Linked DNA regions of Homo sapiens. The protein of the gene in region 1 interacts with the protein of each later gene in a biochemical or structural test. Each region holds a gene or a part of one and is shown on either strand. Other genes may lie near its edges.

What was found.
Region 2: of the proteins of SERPINB1 (region 1) and PRTN3, one has a biochemical effect on the other in vitro, tested with the Homo sapiens proteins (one study listed by BioGRID).

What each region holds. Positions count from the first base shown.
Region 1 is NC_000006.12:2,838,702-2,846,657, reverse strand, and holds the start of SERPINB1 (leukocyte elastase inhibitor), read left to right. Parts: upstream 1-4,794; 5' UTR 4,795-4,846; exon of another isoform or gene 4,847-5,061; intron 5,062-5,182; exon of another isoform or gene 5,183-5,442; intron 5,443-6,063; 5' UTR 6,064-6,071; coding exon 6,072-6,239; exon of another isoform or gene 6,240-6,288; coding exon of another isoform or gene 6,289-6,309; intron 6,310-7,191; exon of another isoform or gene 7,192-7,323; intron 7,324-7,956.
Region 2 is NC_000019.10:836,706-844,233, forward strand, and holds the start of PRTN3 (myeloblastin precursor), read left to right. Parts: upstream 1-4,293; 5' UTR 4,294-4,303; coding exon 4,304-4,364; intron 4,365-6,755; coding exon 6,756-6,921; intron 6,922-7,187; coding exon 7,188-7,329; intron 7,330-7,528. UniProt on the Homo sapiens protein: Serine protease that degrades elastin, fibronectin, laminin, vitronectin, and collagen types I, III, and IV (in vitro).

The DNA.
Region 1 (7,956 bases):
TGCTTACATGGATATTTGCAAGAGAAAATTAAATTATAGACATTCTAGGTACCCCAGTGAGGAGGACCAAGCTGGACTGAAAAGGAGAAATTACGTGATGTCCTGGCATTTATGTCTCAGCGGAAGCCAGTGATTTGTATTTTATAAATGATGGAATTCTGCCCTCTGGAGGATGAAGCTGTGTTACACAGCTGAAATTTTAATGCTAGGTTTCTTCCATTATTTGGCAGAAAATGAAAGGACTAAAAGAAACCCTGGCCAGGCGCGGTGGCTTGCTTGTAATCCCAGCACTTTGGGAGGCTGAGGCGGGCAGATTGCTTGAGGTCAGGAGTTCGAGACCAGCTTGGCCAACATCGTGAAACCCTGTCTCTACTAAAAATACAAAAAATTAGCTGGGCATGGTGATGCACACCTGTAGTCCTAACTACTCAGGAGGCTGAGGCAGGAGAATCGCTTGAACCTGGGAGGCGGAGGTTGCAGTGAGCAGAGTCAAGATCGTGCCACTGCACTCCAGTCTGGGTAACACAAAAAGACTCCGTCTCAAAAAGAAAAAAAAAAAGAAAAGAAAAGAAAAAAGAAGAAACCCTGAGAGATTATTTTATCTGTTTCTCTCATTTCAATCACGTAAGCTGCCTAAGATAGGAAAATGTAAATGATTTTAGACTTTCCTGGAAGCGTCTTGTTATCTGCAACCACTGTCCAGGGGCCAAAATTATTCACTGTCATGAAATTAGTCTCACCCAAAATTCTCAGACTATTATAAGAAAACATTATCTGTAAAATGATTTTGTGTTATTTTTCTAGTTGTGTTTATAAGTTACAAATTAGTTTTTTGGTGTTTTTTGTTTTTTATTTTTGAGACAGGTTCTCACTTTGTCACTCAGGTTGGAGTGCAGTGGCGCGATCATAGCTCACTGCAGCCTCATGCAACTCCTGGGTTCAAGTGATCCTCTCACCTCAACCTCCCAAGTAGCTGGGACCACAGGTGTGTACCACCACACCCAGCTAATTTTTAAAGTTTTTTAGAGATAGGGTCTCCCTATGTTGCCCAGGCTCAAAAAATTATTTATTAAAAACAAATGTAATAATTATTTTCATATTTCTCCTTTGCTATACTAAATACAGGCTATGGCACACAAAAATTGCTTTTTTTGAGTTTAAAATATTTCCAGTTGCTGAACTGCTAGTGGATTACTATACATTTTATCTTTTGAGGATAAAATAAAATATATTACCTAAAATAAATCACCTAAAATAAATTACCTAAAAGAAAATATATTATTTTATTTTACCTAAATAAAATAATAAAATAAAATAAAATATATTAGTACCTAAAATAAAATATATTACCCAGCGAGCACAACATGGAAATAATTTACCCACAAGAATTATATTTAACATATTTACAAAACGCTATTGTGAGACTTTTAATTTCACCATGCTGCAAGTTTATTAAAAGTGTCACAATTCACTTAATAGCAGTTTCTTAAACTGAACAAGAAAACAAGCTAATTCAAAATGACTTGAAGAGTGAAGAAAAAAATTCTCAAGATGCTTCTGAGAGTTCTGGGTGATCAGTAGCAGCTCGTTTGAAGAGCCAGAAAAAGTCTAAGTTCTACTTTCAGGAGCTGGAGGCAGGAGGAATAATTCAGGAATAATTCAAGGTGGAGGAGAATAAGGAAAAACGCTTAGGAGACTGACACTTCTCCATATTATTGTTGGATGAGATGGGCTAGGAAGACTCGGGGGCAGTAATGTGGCCGTGTCCACACATTTCTCCTAGACAAGAGGGATAAGAACAAGGCCGGCTTCTCAAGAAGAGCCCCTGTCTTAGTCTTTTCCTGCTGCTTTATCAAAACATCTTGTAAACACTAGACACCTATTTCTTACAGTTCTGGAGGCTGGGAAGTCCAAGGCTGGGAAGTTCGAGATCTGCAGGTGCAGACTCAGTGTCTGATGAGGGCATTTTCTTGCGGTGTTCTCATTTGGTGGGAAAGGCAGAAGGGACAAATGCTGTGTCCTCACCTGACAGAACAGATGTTTTATGGGCTGAATGTGTCTCCCCAAAATTCATATGTTGAAACTTTATCACCAATGTGATAGTATTAAGAGGTAGAGCCTTAAGAAGTGCTTAAGTCATGAGGGCAGAACCGTCATGGGTGGGATTTGGGCCCTTGAGGGAGTGCGTTCATCCCTTTCCATCCCTCCCACCGCCACGTGAAGATACAGTATATTTCCCCCTTGGATGCAGCAACAAGGTGCCATTTTGGAAGCAGAGAGCAGCCCACACCAGGCACCAAATATGTGGATGCCTTATTCTTGGACTTCCCAGCCTCCAGAACTGTGAGCAATACATTTCTGTTTTTAATAAATTGCCCAATCACAGGTATTTATAGCAGCACAAATGGACTATGACAGAAATTGATACTGAGAATGGGATGTTGCTATAACTAATACCTAAATATGTGGAAACAGCTTTGAAACTGAGTAATGGGTAGAGGCTGGAAGAATTTGGAGATGCATGCTGGAAAAAGCCTGTATAGACATAAACAGAGCTTTAAGGGAAATTAAGGGTGAGGGCTCAGAAGACAAGGAGAGCTGTAGGGAGAGCCTAAATCATCTTAGAGATTAATTAAGTGGTCTGGTCTTGATCAGAATGCGGTTAGAAGTATAGATGGTAAAGACACTTTTGATGAGATCTTAAAAGGAAACTGGAGGAAAGGTCATCCTTGTTACACAGTGGCAATGAACTTGGCTGAATTGTGTCTATGTCCTAGTGTTTTCTGAATGGCAGAACTTAAAGGCAATAAACTAGGATATTTGATGGAAGAAATCTCTGAGCAAAGCGTTGAGAGTGCAGCATGGCTTCTCTTGACTGCTTGTAGTAAAATGTGAGCAGAGAGAATGAATTAAAAACGAAGTTTATAATCAAGAGGGAAGCAGAGCTTAAAGTTTTGGAAAATTCTCAGCCTGGCCATGTAAAGAATGAAAAGGCATGTTTGGGAGGGAACACCAAGAGTGCTGCCAGGTTCACATTTGATAATGAGATGAGTATGTGTAGAAGGAAGCCAGATGCTATTTATCAAGACAATGGAAGAATGAACCCAAAGGCATTTCTGAGGTTACTGGTTCTGGATTCTCATCCCTGTCCCAGAGTGCCAGGACCCTGAGGGCAGAATAGTTTTAAGGGAGGACTCAGGACACCATGGAACCTTGGGGCTTGCTGCCTAGGGCTGCCTCAAGTCTCTGCCCCCCCACCCCCCACATTCTGGTGCAGCACTCTTTGGCCACCATCCCACGTGTGGCTTATGCAGGCCCTTGTCAGGCCACCCTTCCTGTAAGCCTTGGCAGAGTCCACGTGATGCTAACTCTGCAGGTGCACAGAGTGCATGAACTGTGGAGACACAGCCACCTCCACCTAGATTTTGAAGGATGTGTTGGGGACCCTGGGGGCCCAGTCTGAGAATTGTCACTGAGGTGAGGCTGCTGCAGAAAACCCTCACTAGGGCAATGTTTAGTGGAGCAGTGGGATTGGGGCCACTGCAGAGAGCCCCAAATAGAGTAATATCTAGTGGAGCTGTGGGAACAGGGCTGTCCCTGAGAACCCAGAACTGTCCAGCCACCAGCATGCAAGTCTATCCTGGGAGAGCCTAGACCTCAACCTGTGAGAGCTGCTGCATGGGTTGCACCTGGCAAATCCATGGGAGTGGATCCCCTGGACACTAGGGGACCCAGTCTCCACCCCCCTGTGCTCGGAATGGGGGACACAGCATCAAAGAAGATTATTCTGAAGCCCCAAGATTTAATGCTGTTTGCCTTGTTGGGTTTGGACTTACTTGGGACCAGATACTCCTTTCTTCTTGCCTGCTTCTCCCTTTGGGAATGGGAATGTACGTCCTATGCCTGTCTCATCACTGTATTTTGAAGGCCTGTAACCTATTTGATTTCACGGGCTCATAGCTGGAGGGGAATTTCACTTAGGATGAATTGTACTTTGAATCTTATGCCTTTCTAATTTAGAAGATATTTAGGTGAGACTTTGGACTTACATTTTAAAGTTGATACTGGAACTTTGGAGGCCACTGGGATACAATGCATGCATTTTGCATGTGAGAGGGGTATGAATTTGGAGGGCAGGGGCAGAATGCTATGCTTTGAATGTCTGTGTTCCCTGCAAAATTCATGCTGAAACAATCCTCAATGCAATACTAACAGGTGGTGCCTTTAGGAGGTGACTGGATTATGAGGGCACCTTCCTCATGAATGGGATTGGCCCCTTATACGAGAGACTTCACATGAGATTTGGCCCCTTTTGCCCTTCCACTTTCCACCATTGAGGACGCAGCAGCAAGCTGTCATCTTGGAAACAGAGAGCAGGTGTTTGGAACTGGTTCTGTTTCATCTGATTCTGGGGGCCCCTCTTTTTCCCTGTGCAAGATCCCCAAATTTGCTTCCTTCTCTCAAAGAAAGCTCCCAATATAGATGGGACTCAAAGGGAGTCATTTGCCCTCTAAGAGGTGTCACAATATGTCGTCTCAGTCATTCACACCTTAGTAAGAAAAAGCTTTTCAGGTCCTTGCCAGAGATTCGGGGAAAGGCTTTGAACTGAGAAAGAAGCCGCGCCCCTGAGGAGGGCGCTGCCCGGAAGCCACGCTCACTTCTGCTTGCACTTAGGCGACCTCGGGAGCTCGGACTCCTACGCAGTCACCGGGAAGGGCCGCCGCCCCGCCCGCGGCTGCTGGCCCGGGTGACGCTTCCGCCTGCTATAAGAGCAGCGGCCCTCGGTGCCTCCTTCCTGACCTCGCACCCAGCTCGGAGCCCGGAGCGTGCCTCGGCGGCCTGTCGGGTAAGGCCGGGCCTCGGAGCGGTGGCGCGGGGGCGGGCGCGGGGAGAGGCCAGGCTCCCTCGCTCAGCTTCCAGCCCGGCACCCCCCACCCCCCAGGCTCAGGCCCCTCAGACCCGCAGCTCCCTGCGCTCGCCCTCCCCGCCAGCTTCGCGCCCCCATCCCTTCCGGGCGCCCCGACGGAGACAGACGACCTCTGATCCCCCGCCCCCGCCTGGGTACAGGCCGGGCCAGCCCGCGAGGGAGGGAGGGAGGGAGGACGACAGATGCAGGCGGAAGGCAAGACTGAAACCTGAGATCAGAATGTTGTCCCTTCTCCCTGAATTCCCTTCCTCCCAGAGCTGTTTGTGACGGTTTCCAGGCAGCCCAGGGCCAGGCCGCGGCTCCTATCTGCAGCTGCAGGGAGAGAGAGGAGGAACCCCGTGCGATTCTAGAGACGATTTCACAACAAGGAGAAATCAGCTTTGTGCTTACATGCCGAGCAGCCAGCACGGTTCTTCTTTGCCTGTCCTCGGGGGAAATCAGGGCTCTGAGAGTGGAGATCGAGATGGGCTAGTGGGTGGCGGATGGGACGCTGCACGGCCAGACCCTGGACTGTGGTGGGTTTCCAAACTGGCACATCCTACACCGGCTCTGAGACTGTGGGCACTGGACCTCATACCTTTTGAACCTCAAAAATAAGGAAGAATTATATTATTATAATAATTACAGTGATACCTTTGCTGGAGTTTTAATGCATAGTAGGTAGCTGAGTCTCTGATAGAAGGCTCTTAGTTCAGGTGAAGGTAGGCAATGGATTCATTGCCCAATGAATCAGAGACTTGAATCAAAGGCTCAGAAGCACGTGCGCTCCCACACATAGGTTGGGAAGACCCAGGGCTGGGTGGGCCCTCCCACCCCACTAAAGCTGGGGTAGCTGGGGCCTGCCTTACCCCCGCCCCACCCCCAGACTCACCTGTCTGCAAGGTCAGAGCCCTTTAGGGCACCCTGGGTGCCCTAAAATCCCCTATAACTGCTGAGTCCTTGGCCAGAATGGTCCCACATTTGTGGGCCTGGGAAAGTGTTCTTGCCCTGCTGGAATAAAAAAGCGGGGAGAAAGTACAAGATCCAGGATGCCTCAGGGCGGTTGGCAGAAATTGAGGAAGCTTCTGGAGAAATAGTGCTGCCTAATCTGCTGGCGTGGGCAGTGGGCACCATGAGGACCCTGTTCTGTGTTGCAGTTTTCACCATGGAGCAGCTGAGCTCAGCAAACACCCGCTTCGCCTTGGACCTGTTCCTGGCGTTGAGTGAGAACAATCCGGCTGGAAACATCTTCATCTCTCCCTTCAGCATTTCATCTGCTATGGCCATGGTTTTTCTGGGGACCAGAGGTAACACGGCAGCACAGCTGTCCAAGGTCAGCAGAAACAAAAAAAAGGGTCTGCTTTCCTCCCATCTCCCTACGAATGGACAGTCTGCATGGAAAGGTTGTGCCTTTGAGCTCTTACCTTGTGTTTTCAGAACTGTATTTTTATGAGATCAGACTTTCAGAAAAGTCACACTTGTATGCAGGCTTCCATTCATCATCAGGTTTTTCCTAAGTACCTACCACGTACCAGGAACTGTTTTTCGTATTGCTGAGGAGACAGCAGTGAGCAAAGCTGACAAAAATCCCTGCAGGGCGAGGCTTCTGTTCCAGTGGATGAATCTGACAGCTTTCCTGAAAGGCATACTACATCCTCCTGAGCTAGCATCTTCCAGTTTTTGCTTTGCATATGATGATATGCAACTCATAAATATTGCCTGTTATATAACACTACTTTCAAGCATAATGAGAGGAATAAGACATAGGGAATGCATTATAGTGGAGATAGTGGCATTGCTTTTTTGCAAGGAAAAGAGAAAAAGTGACCCTGTGGTTCTGTAGTCCCAGGGTGCTGCGCATGGCTCAGTGGGCTGTGGCATAGCACGCCCTGCAGGGGAGGTGAGGGGGAGACCCGCAGCTTCAGGGGCGGGACCCAGCCCTTGGCGATGTGACAGGTCACTCTCATGCCCAGCCTTCCTTCTTGTCCATAATGGACATGGAGAGGACTTCTGTGCTTGGTACTCTTTAATTCTGAGAAGAGAACTCTAGCTCTCTCTCTCTAAGCTCAGCAGAAAGGAGTGGTAAAAGTGGAGGCTCTTCTAACATACCTGCCGCAAATTACACTGCACCTGTTCCTTGGCAAGGTGCAGCCTGGGATTCAAGTTCAAGGGGCTGCGAAACTTCTATTACTCATCACTTTAGATATGAAAGCATTTTAAATGTTTTTTTTAAATCCATTAAAAAAAAAAAACCTCTGTTACTAATTGTTAGTTGCTTCTTGCAGGGTTATATCAGTTCCTAGCTTGAGGTTTTCCAGGGACTTTAAAACCTCAGCAAAGAATAGTTTTAAGGACTCCTCCCCCATTTCCATTAAAGCAGATGGAGCATAGGCACAGTGCAAACATTCCATATCTCGGTGAGTAATGTGGACTTCGTACCCTATGCAATTTTGTTCTTTGTGTCTTAATCATAAAGGAACCAGCCTAGGTCTCATAAAACCACAAAGGGCCTCTTGATTTGTAACTGATACATGGGGAATTAAACTTTTGCCAGAATGTTAAGTTTAAGGAAGTTATTTTAAAATAAGTGAGTTACTGATGTTAATAGGGTAATAAAATTTTAAAAGCTTCAGTCTGTACTATCTTTGTGGTTCTGAATAGAGGATGAATCCTATTTTTACTGCTTATTTCTGAGAACTTTCAGTAAAATTATATTTGATACAGAATATAAATATGAACATACCATTTATTATTTTCTTTGGAAAAGGCAGACTTATATATAAATATTTAGTATCTTAACCACCCACATTTGTGGAACTGCAAGTGTAACAAAGAGTGATGTAAAAGCAATGTGTAAAGTTGTAAACATTCTGTCTCACGAAGCCATAAATTTTGGATTTCCTATTGTTTGTTCTGCAATGACAAATTAATAAAGTATTGGGTTTGGGATCATCAATAATTAGTAATAAAAACACATTAATTTAATGTGATAGAAGGAAACACCAAGGAATCACTTTATAGTTTCAAAATAAATGGTTGTAGAAAGAAGA
Region 2 (7,528 bases), on another chromosome or scaffold:
GCGCTCCTGTCGCCCTGGCCTGTGCTTTTGAGTCCCCCCAGGACGCACAGGGAGCCTGGAGGACCCGGGGCCCGCGGGACGGTGCTGGGACCCTCCGGTCAGGACCGGGCTGCATCAGCCTTGCGTGGAAACAGATCCTGACGGGGAAGCCCACGTACAGTGAGGACGGGGCAGCCCCCTGGGCAGCTCTCGCGTGTGCTAGATCCAGCAGTGTGTGTGCAAGGTCTTTCTTTTCTTTCTTTTCTTTTTTTTTTGGTTGACAGCTTTATTGAGATGTCCTTCACACACACCAAGCAATTCACCCACTTAACAATTCGGTAGTGGCCAGATGGTGGGGGAGGATCGCTGGAGCCCAGGAGTTCCAGACGAGCCTGGGCAGCATAGCAAGACCCCTCTCTATTAAAAAAAAAAAAAGGCAGGGCGCGGTGGCTCACGCCTGTAATCCCAGCACTTTGGGAGGCTGAGGCCGGCGGATCACCTGAGGTCAGGAGTTCGAGACCAGCCTGGCCAACATGGTGAAATCCCGTCTCTACTACAAATACAAAAAACAAATTATTCAGGCGTGGTGGCAGGTGCCTGTAATCCCAGCTACTTAGGAGGCTGACGCAGGAGAATGGCTTGAACCCAGGAAGCCAAGGTCACACCACTGCACTCCAGCCTGGGTGACAAGAACAAAACTCCATGTAAAAACAAATCAAGAAACCTCAAATCCGTCGACCCCCACTGCTGCCCTGCAGAAGGTCCTATTACCGTCCTCACCCGCCTTTACAGGTGGGGAAACTGAGGACTGCAAGCCAAACAGCTTGCCTCAGCATGAGCTGACTCATGGCTGAAACCAACAGCACTTTTGTTGAATGAGAATAACCCTTTTATTTTGAGACGGTGTCTCGCTCTGTTGCCCAGGCTGGAGTGCAGTGACGCGATCTCAGCTCACTGCCCCCTCCACCTCCCGGGTTCAAGTAATTCTCCTCCCTCAGCCTCCCAAGTAGCTGGGATTACAGGCATCTGCCACCACACCCAGCTAATTTTTGTATTTTTAGTAGAGTCGGGGTTTCACCATGTTGCCCAGGCTGGTCTTGAACTCCTGACCTTGTGATCCATCTGCCTCAGCCTCCCAAAGTGCTGGGATTACAGGCAACAGCCACCGCGCCCGGCCACAGCTCTAGTTCTTTTTCTTTTTTTTTTTTTTGAGACGGAGTCTCGCTCTGTCGCCCAGGCTGGAGTGCAGTGGCACAATCTCTGCTCACTGCAAGCTCCGCCTCCCGGGTTCACGCCATTCTCCTGCCTCAGCCTCCCGAGTAGCTGGGACTACAGGCGCCCGCTACCACGCCCGGCTAATTTTTTGTATTTTTAGTAGAAACGGGGTTTCACCGTGTTAGCCAGGATGGTCTCGATCTCCTGACCTCGTGATCCGCCCGCCTCGGCCTCCCAAAGTGCTGGGATTACAGGCGTGAGCCACCGCGCCCGGCCCACAGCTCTAGTTCTTTAATACACATCAGGTCGGTCATGGTGGCTCATGCCTGTGATCCCAGCATTTGGGGAGGTCAAGGCAGGAGCGTCCCTGAAGGCTGGCAGTTCAAGACCAGCCAGGGCAACATAGCAAGACCCCATTTCTACAAAAAATTAAACAGCCAACCAAAAAAAAAAAAAAAAAGAAAGAAAAACTTTAGCTGGACATGGTGGAGCATGCCTGTGGTCCCAGCTACTTGGGGGGTTGAGGCAGGAGAATTGCTTGAGCCCAGGAGGTCGAGGCTGCAGTGAGCCATGATTACACCACTGCACTCCAGCCTGGGTGACACAGCCAGACCCTGTCTCAAAAAATATATATGTATATTTTAAAATATTATATATTATATAATGTAAATAATATACATGCTACATATTTTATGTATACATCTATGTTATATACATTAATATAGCCAGGTGCAGTGGCTCACACCTGTGTTCCCAGCACTTTGGCGGGATTACGGGCGGGTCACCTGAGGTCAGGAGTTCGAGACCAGCCTGGCCAATATAGTGAAACCCCGTCTTTACTAAAAATACAAAAAAAAAAAAAAATTAGCCAGGCGTGGTGGTGGGCGTCTATAATCCCAGCTATACAGGAGGCTGAGGCAGGAGAATTGTTTGAACCCGGGAGGCGGAGATTGCAGTGAGCTGAGATCGCACCACTGCTCTCCAGCCTGGTGACAGAGCGAGACTCTGTCTCAAAAAAAAAAAAAAATCCAAAGGGGAAAACAGTAACTGGACAGTGCAGGAACCGGCAGATGCCCTGACCACGTGGTCAAGGTTATTACCATCAGCACGAGACAGGCCGAAGCCATGGGCTTCGACGTGGGGGGCCTGAGACAGACACACGCCACGCCCGGGACTCCCTCCATTGAGTCCTGAGGCCACCCAGGACCATCCCCACGGAGGGACGCTCTGCAGAGTGACCACCAGCTCTCCTCAATGGTCCCAAGGGCTGAGGGAGGGCAGAGGGACTGCGCCCGCTGGAGGAGACCCTGACATCTGAAGATGGGTGGCTTGTGTACCCAGGACCCAGCAAAGGGTGGCTGGTGATACTCAGGGGGCTGGGGCAGAGGGGGCCATTTGGAATCAACTTTCGCGCCCTGGCTTCGATCACAGCCTGGAGGGTTGAGCAAGAGGACAGAATTTAGGGAAGCTGGGGGAGGGAGGCCGGGGGAGGGAGTTTGGGGAGCGGGGAGGGAGTTTGGACCCTTTGGACTTCTGTAAGCGTGAAATCCTTTCCAAATGAAACGTTAAAAAGCTTTTTTTCTTTTTGGCCTCCAAGTTCATTCAGTGCTTCTCTCCATTTCACTGTAGGTTTAAACCGTTCAGTTATAAATAAATAATTTTATCCTCTGTCCTCGGCTTTCCCCCGTTTCCGGCACTGCAGACATGGGGGCTGGATTTGTCTCTGCGGCGGGGCCATCCTGGGCACTGCAGGGCCCTGCCAGGAGCTCCCTCCAAGTCGTGACAACCACGGATGTCTCCAGGCCTCACACAGGGACCCCTGGGGGCAGAATCACCCCAGGGTTAGAGGATTCCACAGACCCCAAGAGACTCTGAGTCCCATGATCCTCTGCCCTGCTGAGGTCCCAGGAGGCTGCACACATTGAAATCCACACCCTGAGTGGGAGGGAGAGAGGAGGCGAGTCCCGGGAGCTGGGGTCCCCCGGGTTTATGCCGTACGCCCCATCGGGAGTTTATTCTGGTGTCCGGTGTGAGCAGGGGGCAGACTGGATTTTTTATTTTTTATTTTTATTTATTTATGTTTTGAGATGGAGTCTTGCTCTGTTGCCCAGGCTGGAGTGCAGTGGCACGATCTTGGCTCCCTGCAACCTTCGCCTCCCAGGCTCAAGTGATTCTCCTGCCTCAGCCTCCTGAGTAGCTGGGACTACAGGCGCCCGCCAACACGCGCAGCTAATTTTTGTATTTTTAGTAGAGATGGGGTTTCACTATGTTGGCCAGGCTGGTCTTGAACTCCTGACCTCAGGCGATCCACCCGCCTCGGCCTCCCAAAGTGCTGGGATTACAGGTGTGAGGCACCGCACCTGGCCATTTTTTTCCCCAAATAATGAACACTGGTCTCTCCCCTGGGCCCTGTGGACATCGGGGCTGGATCCTTCTCTGGGGCAGGCCCGTCCTGGGCACTGCAGGGTGCTAGGCATCATCCTTGGCCTCCACCCACTCCATGCCAGGAGCTCCCCTTTCGTGACAGCCACAGGTGTCCTCAGACCTCGCCCAGGGTCCCCTGGGGGCAGAATCACCTCTTGATTGAGAATCCTGGCCTTAAAGGGGGAAGAAAACCCCCAGACAAAACTGGCAGGAGGATGTTCGCTGGGGCCTCAGGTGAGGCACTGAGGGCACTCGTGGTGGGGCCCTGCCTTCCCGAGCTCTGCATCCTGTCCCCTGCTACGTCCTGCTGTCTGTCCGTTTCCAGCTCACCCACCCACGGGACACACCTGCCACGGCCGGCTTTGCTGGGGCCACAGGGACCTCGTCAGGGAGGCGTCTCCTTGTGGGTGGCACGTGGGCATGTGTTGCTCTGAGGGCTGTGGCCATGTTGCCCACCTGGCCAGGGACCCCCGACTTGGGTGGGTGACAGCCAGCCTCCCCGCCCCCACAAAGGTTGGGACCTTGAGCCCAAAGCCCCCACCTCCTCCCCGGAGTCCGTTCTGACTCCCAGGCTCCCAAGGCAAAAGGAGGAAGTGGGGACCCAGCCTGGGCATTGGGCAACTCAACGGCCTCTGGCATTGGGCTATAAGAGGAGCTTGACCGTGGGTGCACCCTGGACCCCACCATGGCTCACCGGCCCCCCAGCCCTGCCCTGGCGTCCGTGCTGCTGGCCTTGCTGCTGAGCGGTGAGTGAGCCACGTGCCCATCCATCCAGCCTCCAGGCCCCGGTGGATTGTGGGGAAATATCCACCACGAGGTCCATCCAAAGCCCTTCTGGCACAGCTGGGGAAACTGAGGCAGGGTCAGGGGAGACTCCACTCACTGCTCGGGACCAACGCTTGCAGGGGTGGGGAGGACAAGGGCAAGGGGGAGCCCTGGCCATTTGACTCAGTTGCCTATCTGTAAAACGGGCAAAACCCAGCCCTTCCCTCCTGAGGAGCTGTTTTGGGAATTAGCTAGTAACAGGCGAATTCCTGGACAGCACCCAGCCTTCAGCAAATGCTCAGTGAATATGCATGAATGAATGAATGAGTGAATGAATGAGTGAGTGAGTGAATGAGTGAACAAATGAATGAGTGAATGAATCAATGAGTGAGTGAATGAATGAGTGAATGAGTGAATGAGTGAACGAATGAATGAGTGAATGAATCAATGAGTGAGTGAATGAATGAGTGAATGAGTGAATGAATGAGTGAATGAGTGAATGAGTGAACGAATGAATGAGTGAATGAATGAATGAGTGAGTGAGTGAAAGGGTCGAGGAGTTAGTGATGCTGGAATCAGGGGAAGAAGAGAGCATGGGCCCCCTCAGGTCCCTATCCTGAGGGTGATTTTCTTTTTCTTTTTCTTTTTTTTTTTTTTGAGACGGAGTCTCGCCCTGTCGCCCAGGCTGGAGTGCAGTGGCGCGATCTCGGCTCACTGCAAGCTCAGCCTCCCGGGTTCACGCCTTTCTCCTGCCTCAGCCTCCCGAGTAGCTGGGACTACAGGCGCCCACCACCATGCCTGGATAATTTTTTGTAATTTTTGTAGAGACGGGGTTTCAAGGTGTTAGCCAGGATGGTCTCGATCTCCTGACTTCGTGATCCGCCTGCCTCAGCCTCCCAAAGTGCTGGGATTACAGGCGTGAGCCACCGCGCCTGGCCCTTTTTTTTTCTTTTTTGAAACGGAATCTTGCTCTGTCGCCCAGGCTGGAGTGCAGTGGTGCAATCTCAGTTTACTGCAGCCTCAGCCTCCTGGGGTCAAATGATTCTCCTGCCTCCGCCTCTTGAGTAGCTGGGATTACAAGCACACACCACCACACCTGGCTAGTTTTTGTATTTTTAGTAGAGATGGGGTTTCACCACGTTGGTCAGGCTGGTCTCGAACTCCTGACCTGAGGGGGATTTTCAATGCCTCAGTTTGTTCATCTGCAAAATGGGTCTCTTTGTTGGCTGATTTTTTTTTTTTTTTTTGCTTCTTTTTTTTTATTTTGTTTTGTTTTGTTTTTTTGAGATGGGGTCTCACTCAGGCATGAGCCACTGCGCCCAGGATTTTTTTTTTTTTTTTTTTTTTTTGAGACAGAATCTCACTCTGTTGCCCAGGCTGGAGTGCAGTGGTGTGATCTCGGCTCACTGCAACCTGTGCCTCCTGGGTTCAAGCGATTCTCCTGCCTCAGCCTCCCAGGCAGCTGAGATTACAGGTGCGAACCACCACACCTGGCTAATTTTTTTTTTTTTTTTTTTTGAGACGGAGTGTCATTCTGTTGCCAGGCTGGAGTGCAGTGGGGCGATCTTGGCTCACCACAACCTCCGCTTCCTGGGTTCAAGCGATTCTCCTGCGTCAACCTCCGGAGTAGCTGGGACTACAGGCACGTGCCACCACGCCCAGCTAATGTTTGTATTTTTAGTAGAGACAGGGTTTCACCATGTTGGCCAGGATGGTCTCCATCTCTTGACCTCAGGTGATCCACCCACCTCGGCCTCCCAAAGTATTGGGATTACAGGCGTGGGCCAACCGCACCCGACCAATTTTTCTGCTTCTTTAAAAACATTTTTTTAAATTTTGTTTTAGAGACAGGGTCTTGCTCTGTTGCCCAGGCTGGAGTGCAGTGGTGTGATCTCAGTTCACTGCAGCCTTGACCTCCTGGGCTCAAGCGATCCTCCCTCCTCAGCCTCCCAAGTAGCTGGGACGACAGGTGCACACCACCATGCCTGGCTAATTTTAAAATTTTTTGTAGAGATGGGGTCCTCACAATTTTGCCCAGGCTGGTCTTGAACTCCTGAGCTCAAGGGAGCCTCCTGCCTCGGCCTCCCAAAGTGTTGGGATTACAGGCGTGAGCCACTGCACCCAGCCACCTGGTCTGCGTCTTAAAAGCCTTCCTGACTCTCAGGACTGAAAGCTGCCACCAGGGCGCCTTTGGAAATCGTCGTAATTATAACCCCCCCGGCCTGGGCGCTGAGTCCTTCCCACCAGCCAGCAGGCACTGACCGGGTTGCAGATCGGGAGACGGAGGCTCGGAGAGGCCCAGGGGCTGCTCTGCCATCCCCCCTTTCCCTGCAGCCTGGGGGCTCCCTGACGCCTGGACTCCCCCCCTGCAGGTGCTGCCCGAGCTGCGGAGATCGTGGGCGGGCACGAGGCGCAGCCACACTCCCGGCCCTACATGGCCTCCCTGCAGATGCGGGGGAACCCGGGCAGCCACTTCTGCGGAGGCACCTTGATCCACCCCAGCTTCGTGCTGACGGCCGCGCACTGCCTGCGGGACATGTGAGCGGCCGCCTCCACACCCCTGTCCGCCCGCCCCGCCCTCTTCCTCCAGCCCTGGCCCGGCCACTGTCCCTCTGCCCGGGGAGGACCCAGCTAAGCCCCGTCTGCAGACCCCAGGCCCCGCGCGCGTGGGCAGTTCTGGGGGGAGGCCCGGGGCAGGGTCGCCGAGGGAGGGGTCTGGGGCTGCACCGCGGCCTCGGGAAGGGCCGGCTGTGGGCGGCGGCGAGTGTCCAGGGCGCCGAGGAGTGACCACCCCACCCCCGCAGACCCCAGCGCCTGGTGAACGTGGTGCTCGGAGCCCACAACGTGCGGACGCAGGAGCCCACCCAGCAGCACTTCTCGGTGGCTCAGGTGTTTCTGAACAACTACGACGCGGAGAACAAACTGAACGACGTTCTCCTCATCCAGGTGGGCGGGCAGGGCCGCGAGGGCTCGGAGGGGCACGGCCAGAGGGCTCCGGGACCCCCATTCCTGCAGCCAGCATTCATTGAGCACCCACTGTATACCGGGCCACGACCGAGGCCGCTGCAGCCTGGGTCCAGTGGCACTGGCCGGGGGAGACCGCTCCTTGGACACCAGGCCACTCCTCCTCCCCGCCTCTCCCCCG